Linked DNA regions of Homo sapiens: regions 2 and 3 are each linked to region 1. The links come from fine-mapping of genetic effects on gene expression. A gene starts in region 1. Each other region holds a variant in brackets. All regions are shown on one strand. Distances are from middle to middle. Region 1 holds the start of GNS (glucosamine (N-acetyl)-6-sulfatase). Region 2 overlaps GNS (glucosamine (N-acetyl)-6-sulfatase). Region 3 has its middle 50 kb from the start of GNS.

Region 1 (2,761 bases):
TACTCACTAAACTGATTTCATAACTCACTCAAGGGTTGGGACCAGAGGTTTGAAGGACACTGAGCTAGGGTGTGTAACTACACAAGAAAAGTTAGGAACGTCTTGCCTGGAGTATTTCATAGTCTCAGCATTCAGCTGAAAGCAAAAAGAGAACTGAAACGAAGAAAGCAATAAAGCATTTGGTTTTAAAGCGAAGAGAGGAATGCTGAACCCAGGGTCAGAGGACTCTGCCTCAACTACTCATGTCTTGGGCAAGTTGCTTTCTGGGCCTCCATGGGGAAGGGGTTGGAGTGGATGTTTCCAAAGGTCACACATTCCATAATTCTGCAATACACAAGCAAAATTTACTCTGGAAAAAAAATGAAGTCTTGTGACAACACCCATTAGATAGAAAATGAAACACTGACAGTCTCTAATGCAACAGTCAGGTGTTCAATCACACTAATTGAATTTTCTTGATTCTTGTGAGGCAACACACACCCTCAATAGTTCGACGGTCGGCCTACCAGATTAGTTCACTTCAGGCCTTTTTTTTTTTTTTTTTTTTTTTTTTTTTTTGGAGACGGAGTCTCGCTCTGTCGCCAGGCTGGAATGCAGTGGCGCGATCTCGGCTCACTGCAACTGCTGCCTCCCGGGTTCAAGCGATTCTCCTTCCTCAGCCTCCCAAGTAGCTGGGACTACAGCTGCGCGCCACCACGCCCAGCTAGAATTATTGTATTTCTAGTAGAGACGGGGTTTCACCATGTTGGCCAGGATGGTCTCGATCTCTTGACCTTCTGATCCGCCCGCCTCGGCCTCCCAAAGTGCTGGGATTACATGAGTGACACACCGCGCCCGGCCCAGGCTTATTTTTATTGACATCAGATACAGACATTGTATACAGGCACAAACGTGGAGGTGGTCTAGGTCCCTCATAAAGGGGACTGGACTTGTCTGTGATCCTCTAATCCAAAAGAAAAACAATCAGGCCTTGAGTGCTCTTAGACAGCACCTGATCCTCATTGGTTCAACCCATCCTCCACTGGTCTCCACATGTTTATCTTGAGATATTAACGTAAACTCCACAGCAGTACGGTCCAGACTAGAAGCTCTGTGTGCTGTACGCATGTGCCTCAATCCAGAAAGGAAAAGAGTATTGCAGTCCCTTACACCGGCATAAAGGGCCTCAGGTGGGAAAACCAAACCTACCCAAGGATAAGACAGCCAGTTCGGGGAGGAGGGTGGTGGGGACCGGGAAAGAGAGCAACAAACCGGGTAGTCAGCCCAAGAGATAGAGGGGCGGGGCAGAAACAGAAGAGTTACCATGCCGCCGAGCACTTCGTCCTGGTCGTCCGTGAGGAGCAGCACCACGTTGGGCCTCCGGGTTCCCGCAGCCACCCCGAAGACCCCCAGGCAGCCGCCCAGCACCAGCAGTAGCAGCGCTGGGCTGCAGGAGGGCAGGTGGCGGGGGCTGCCCCGCCGGAGCCGACCTGGGGCTAGAGGCAGGAGCCGCATAGCGGACAGGCTCCGGGGTGACCCCGGGACGGGACGGGACGGAGGGACGCACAGGTAGCTGAAGGGCGAGAGGCCGACCAGCCGAAGGAATAAAAAGCCGTGCCTTGAAGGCCGGTGGCTGGAGTCAGACGTTTTCTCCCTAGGCGCGATCACGTGAGCCAGGGACAGGGGGCGGAGCACGCTGCGCGGTCACGTGACGGCCGGCGTGGGCGGGGCTGCGGACTGGCGCAGCCTGGAGGGAGGCATCAGGCAGTGGCGGAAAAGGGGCGGAGAACCGGAGAAAAGGGCGGAGAACCGGAGAAAAGGGCGGAGAACCGGAGAAAAGGGCGGAGAACCGGGAAAAGGGCGGAGAACCGGGAAAAGGTCAAGACCTGTACGTACCTCTCGCGCAGGCTCGGGTTGCGTTCTGGTAGGACGTACGTGTTTCTGAGCGCTTGGTGGAAAGATTTAAATGGGGGGAAGAGAAGATGAAAAGCAGGAAAGAGTTGGCAAATACTAACCAACCGATAAAGGAAGAGAAAGGAGGACTGTACATAACAGAAATTATCATCAGCTGGTGAGGAAAGTGGACTCTACCATATTTAATCCCCAAGTCGACGGGCACTTATTCAAGGCCCGGATGTTTAATCGTTTTTAATTTTCTCTACAACTTGTGAGATAAATCTTAACATTCTCATTTGGCTCAGACATTAAATTCGGAACTGGTTAGCTCTCTTAACTCCAAAGCCTAATTATGTTCTTCTTTCCTCAGCAGACATCGTAGTTTCAAACAATTTAGGGATGTCCTGACAGCTTTATCCTAATGGTTATCCTAATGGTCCTTGGTGACTTTTTAAACACCCTCTTGGAACATGTTGGAGGATGTGCAGATCGAACAAAAATCTTGAAACGTGGTCATCCAACTGCATTATTAAGTAATCTTTAGCGGGGAATAGCCCTTGAAACTAGCTCCAGATATTTCTGTGGTCGCTCTGGAATAATTAGACTTTGCCCCTCTCCTCTCACCGCCCACCGTGGGCGCGGTGGCTCACGCTTGTAATCCCAGCACTTTGGGAGGCGGGTGGATCACCTGAGGTCAGGAGTTTTAGACCAGCCTGGCCAACGTGGGGAAACCCCGTCTCTACTAAAATACAAAAATTAGCTGGGCGTGGTGGCAGGCGCCTGTAATCCCAGCTACTCGGGAGGCTGAGGCATGAGAATCGCTTGAACCCGGGAGGCGGAGCTTGCAGTGAGCCACTGCACTCTGGCCTCAGGGACAGAGCGAGAC
Region 2 (2,761 bases), 43 kb before region 1:
AGCTACTTTCAGCCATGTCTTACAAAGTGCTTAAAGCTGGACAGAAGACTTTAAATAAAGCTAAAATCGCTTATTGCCTGAGTTGAACAAGTTACAAACCACAGCTCTTCCTCCTCCCCTGCTGTCTCACCACCAATTAGCCTTCTTGTGAGGACAACATTAGAAATGGAACTGGTTTTTGAGCCAAGAAACATAAAAATTTAGGTGTTCTTAGCCAAGCGTGGTGGCTCATGCCTGTAATCCCAGCACTCTGGGAGGCCGAGGTGGGTGGATCACAAGGTCAGGAGTTCAAGACCAGCCTGGCCAACATGGTGAAACTCTGTCTCTACTAAAAATACAAAAAATTAGCTGGGCGTGGTGGTGCGTGCCTATAATCCCAGCTACTCAGGAGGCGGAGGCAGGAGAATCGCTTGAACCCAGGAGGCGAAGGTTGCAGTGAGCTGAGATCATGCCATTGCACTCCAGCCTGGGTGACATAGTGAGACTCTGTCCCCACTTCTCAAAAATAAAAACATTTAGGTGTTCTCAACAGTGAAGAAACCTGAATAGATTTGATTTTGACAGGGGAATACTGATAATCATACAAGACTCCAAAACTCAGGAAGAACCCATCTAAAAGGGGAGAAGGTAGGGTAAAGTAGTTGATACTTTGCATCAACTGTAAGAAAATTTTCCACCTTAAAACAAATGAAGAGAATGACAGAAAAATGCAGATAGAGCCAATGACTTCATACATGGAACTTAAATTCAAGCTCCCTGCTGGACAGGCACTTCTTTCCTTTATCCCTGGTACAGCCCTTCCACTTGTCTGTTCAAGAGCCCTGTCTTCAGAAGGCCCTCGGAAGAGACAACCTTCACCAACTCTTGGCAGTTCTTCACTGCTGATGTTCCTAAGCCACTTCATTTTTCAGATCTCAGAGGGGAGTCTCAAGAGAAGGGACCTTGCCTTAATCCTTCCAGTGTTAACTGGCACTCCCTGTGGTTGGCAGCCACTGGAAAGTAGATGGCTATCACCTTCAAGAGCTACCTGGAATTGGCCTTTATCACAAGCTTACTGCTCTATTTCAGTGCAGCACCAGCCTAGAATTCACAAAAACATGAACAGAGCTTGGGTGACATGTTTTGAATTTGCAACCTTACCACACTGTGATGAACATCATAAAAAATGTATCTCTACTTATCAATCAACAATGGTACTTGTTCTTACTTGGATGATTCAGCTCTGATGGTTACTCTTCAAGCCATGTGATGTTAGTATTTTTGATAGTGAAGTGCTCAATCTGAAATGCTACACAGGTCCTTTGACTTTAGGTCAAGCTTACATATCAAAAGGTGTGTCTGTGTGTTTGTGTGTGTCCTAAAGTACTGCCATTTATCTGAATGGGTTTACAAATTCAGTCTTTAACCACAAGAGGAATAATCAAGAACTGTGGCCCCAGGATAAAAA[G/A]AATACAGTGAGAACAAAGACCTCAGGAGTGTCCTTGTCAGCTAAAGGAAGAGACCAGAGACAGCCACTCCTGACACATGGGCAGAGTTCACAGTTTAACACATTGCACGAGGAAGTCAGCTGACTGGGTTGCTTTTTCAAACAGGACTTAAAGCCAGCCCAGAAACTCTTCCAGGTGTGGTCTTGAAGACTAGCTACAGACACCTACTACAATCACTTCATCAGAAAGAGGCGTGCAGGGATCCATCTGCAGAGGCTGTGTGAGGTCGCTACAGAAGATGTTTGGAAAATCTTCGAGTCCTGACACTGCCGCGATTGCTGAACATGAGACGGGGGTCAAACCTGTATCTGGGGAGGAAAAACCAAATGTAACATTAGCTCTCACTAGCTTCTCACTCAGAATATTATTCAGTGGAAAGGATAGCAGGAAGGGGTGTAAAAGAAACAAATCACCAGAAGGGACTCTAGTGAGAAAGTCTATGGTACAAAACATGAGCCCTCGACAGTTCCGAACATTTCTATCACCAGTCAGCACACACAAAGTCACACAGTGCAAGTCAAGAGGAGAAAAACAAGTAGGTTAGTCTTGAAAGGTGTCAGAAGGCAGCAAGATTTGAGATTTTTTTCTTTTGAGGGAGTAGGGGTGGATCAACTGTTACATTATTACAGTGCTTGTGTTCAAGTCACCCTGATTTTATTTAACAATGGCTCCAAACCACAAGAGTAGTGGTGCTGCCAATTCAGAAATGCCAAAGAGAAGCCATAAAGTGCTTCCTTTAAGTGAAAAAGTGAACGCTCTTGACTTAATAAGGAAAGAAAAAAATCATACAGCAAGACTGCTAAGACCTACAAGAGCCTCACCATAAACATGAGTCATTTTTGGTGGGGGCGCTGGCAGGGGGACAGAGTCAGTCTGTCGCCCAGGCTGGAGTGCAGTGGCACAATTTCAGCTCACTGCAACCTCCACCTCTCCGGCTCAAGTGATTCTCCTGTCTTAAGCCTCCAGAGTAGCTGGGAACACTGGCGTGCGCCACCACACCTGGCTAATTTTTTTTTTTTTTTTTTTTTTTTGTAGAGACAAGAGTTTCACCATGTTGCCCAGGCTGGTCTAGAACTCCTGGGCTCATGTGATCTGCCCGCCTTGGTCTCCCGAAGTGCTGGGATTACAAATGTGAGCCACCGCGCCCAGCCAGGAATGAATCTTCTATCTGTGAAATCATGAAGAAGGAAAAACGAATTCTAGTTTTGCTGCCACACCTTAAACTGCAAAAGTTAGGGCCACAGTGCATGACAAAAGCTTAGTTAAGATGGAAA
Region 3 (2,761 bases), 49 kb before region 1:
GTGCGATCTTGGCTCACTACAACCTCCACCTCCTGGGTTCAAGTGATTCTCTTGCCTCAGCCTCCTGAGTAGCTGGGATTACAGGTACCTGCCACCACGCCCAGCTAATTTTTGTATTTTTAGTAGAGACGGGGGTTTCACCATGTTGCCCAGGCTGGTCTCGAACTCCTGACCTCAGGTGATCCACCTGCCTTGGCCTCCCAAAGTGCTGGTATTACAGGCATGAGCCACCATGCCCAGCCAGTTTTAGTTTTTTAGCAAGTTCTTTTCTTATCTGCTATCCTGTAAGTCCAAGAATTTAGTCATTTTTCTTTAACTTTTTGGGGCACGGTTTCACTACAGGTACCTACAGTTGGGTGCAGTGGGTGCAAAAGTAATCGCGGTTTTTTGTCATTGGCAAAACTTTTGCACCCGCCTAATAGATTTGGCAAAAGGCTGGCCCAGTTTCTCTCAGTAAACCAGCTTCGGTCATTATATTAGTTATATATTGCTGCATATCAAGTTACCCCCAAACCAGCAGCTTACAACAGCATTAAACATTTTTTAGGCTGGGCGCAGTGGCTCACGCCTGTAATCCCAGGACTTTGGGAGGCCGAGGAGGGCAGATCACCTGATGTCAGGAGTTCAAGACCAGCCTCGACATGGAGAAACCCCGTATCTACTAAAAATACAAAATTAGCCAGGCGTGGTGGTGCATGCCTGTAATCCCAGCTACTCAGGAGGCTGAGGCAGGAGGATTGCTTGAACCTGGGAGGCAGAGGTTGTCCTGAGCCGAGATCGTGCCATTGCACTCCGGCCTGGCCAACAAGAGCGAAACTCCATCTCAAAAAAAAACAACAAAAAACAAAAACCATTTTTTAGATCATGTTGTTATATTCTGTGGGTCAGGAGTCTAGTAGCAGCTTAGCTTGATGGTCCTTGCTTGGTCTCTCACGAGGCTGCAGTTAAGATGATGGCTAGGGCTGCAGTCATCTGAAGTCTTGACTGGGGCTTGGAGGATCTGCTTCCAAGGTGGCTCTCTCACATGCCTGGCAAGTTGGGGCTGGTTGTTTTCAAGAAGCCTCAGATCCTCACCATGTGGACCTTACCAAAGATCTACTTTGGTGTCATTGATATGGCAATAGTTTTCTCCGAGAGTTATCCAAGAGAGAGCAAGGCAGAAGTGGCCATGTCTTTTAGGACCTAGTTGTGGAAGTCACACAGCATCACAGGTGCCCTATTCTACTGGTCACATGGACCAACCCTGATGCATTGTGGGAGGAAACTGCACAAGGATAATTAGGCGCCATCTTGGAGGCTGGCTACCACAGCCATGCTGGA[A/ACC]ACAGTTAAATGAGGCATACAGAGAGGAGCCCTCTTTTTACTTGTTTTCTGACAGCAAGGCTATAGTGCAGGACAAGAAGACACTTGAATGGCAGTGGCACCTTCTCCTCTTAGTCTGAAACCATAGTTTCCCTGTAAGTACAGGTATGAGAGACGAGTTCTCTTTTCAGTCTACATAGTAATGTCCTGGAGGAATAGAATAATTCCCTTTTGTAACTAAGCTCACCACCAGGCAGAGTAGGCACTCACATATATAATGAGGTGGGGACACAGCCTCACAGATCATGGTGACAGCAGAGTTAATGGAAAGATGGCTTTAAAACCACATCTTTGAAATTCTGACTCTTCTTTGACGAATTAGCTTTGTGAGTTTCGATAAATTAAGCTGAGGGAAATAAATCTATCTTATGGAGCTGTTTTATCCTCCTAAAATGATAATTACAAGCATCTTTATATCTCTCTATCCTTTGAGAACCTATCATCATCAGTTAGAGGTGCAGGTTATGATGACATATATGGATATCAGTCTCACCAGCAGGTGATCATGAAATCTTCCTCTCAAAGACTAAGATTTAGAATTGTTAAGGCTGGGCGCGGTGGCTCACGCCTGTAATCCCAGCACTTTGGGAGGCCGAGGCAGGCAGATCACGAGGTCAAGAGTCGGAGACCATCCTGGCCAACATGGTGAAACCCCGTCTCTACTAAAAATACAAAAATTAGCCTGGTGTGGTGGCAGGCGCCTGTAATCTCAGCTATTCGGGAGGCTGAGGCAGGAGAATCGCTTGAACCCGGGAGGCGGAGGTTGCAGTGAGCCGAGATTGCGCCATTGCAATCCAGCCTGGGCGACAGAGCAAGACTCCATCTCAAAAAAAAAAAAAAAAAAAAAAAAAAGATTTAGAACTGTCATCTACTCTACCATACTCCAGGAGCTAGCTCCCATGTCCCACATCTAAATCTTGTCTTATTCAGTGATTCTAGGCCATCAATAGAGATCTCAGCACGATGCTTTTAGCTTGTATCCTTTGGGTTCTCTGGTTGTCAGCTCTTGCCTCAACAGACTTTCGTGTATACATATTACCAGCCCTTTATATCCACTGGTGGTGGCTGGGTGCAGTGGTTCATGCCCATTATCCCAGCACTTTGGGAGGCCAAGGCAGATGGCTCTCTTGAGCCCAGGCGTTCAAGACCAGCCTGGGCAACATGGCAAAACCCCGTCTCTATTAGAAATACAAAAATTAGCTGGGCATGGTGGTGTGTGCCTTTAGTCTCAGCTACTTGGGAGGCTGAGATGGGAGGATCAGTTGAGCCTGGGAGACAGAGGTTGTGGTGTGCCAACATAGGGCCACTGCATCGAGCCTGGGCAACAGAGCGAGACCCTGTCTCAAAAAATAAAAATAAATCCACTGGTGGTAGAGGAAGATGAAACAAACACTACTTCTGT

What was found. PIP is the estimated chance that this variant, and not a neighbour inherited with it, causes the effect.
Region 2: its variant is fine-mapped to the expression of GNS in pancreas (GTEx, PIP above 0.99). The same link has a PIP of 0.9 or more in nasal epithelium.
Region 3: its variant is fine-mapped to the expression of GNS in whole blood (TOPMed, PIP above 0.99).

Annotation. Positions count from the first base shown.
Region 1 is chr12:64,757,783-64,760,543 of GRCh38, forward strand. It overlaps GNS (glucosamine (N-acetyl)-6-sulfatase), which reads right to left and starts at 1,624. Exons shown (of 14, transcript NM_002076.4): 1 at 1,303-1,624. The coding sequence starts at 1,494. It also overlaps a transcript of TBC1D30 not described here. RefSeq lists an enhancer at 170-1,050.
Region 2 is chr12:64,715,025-64,717,785 of GRCh38, forward strand. GNS (glucosamine (N-acetyl)-6-sulfatase) reads right to left here. Exons shown (of 14, transcript NM_002076.4): 14 at 1-1,795. The coding sequence ends at 1,717. Among named protein-coding and RNA genes, the nearest start is that of GNS, 43 kb to the right of the region's middle. The variant G/A (reference allele first, on the strand shown) is at 1,448.
Region 3 is chr12:64,708,376-64,711,136 of GRCh38, forward strand. No RefSeq gene overlaps it. Among named protein-coding and RNA genes, the nearest start is that of GNS, 50 kb to the right of the region's middle. The variant A/ACC (reference allele first, on the strand shown) is at 1,321.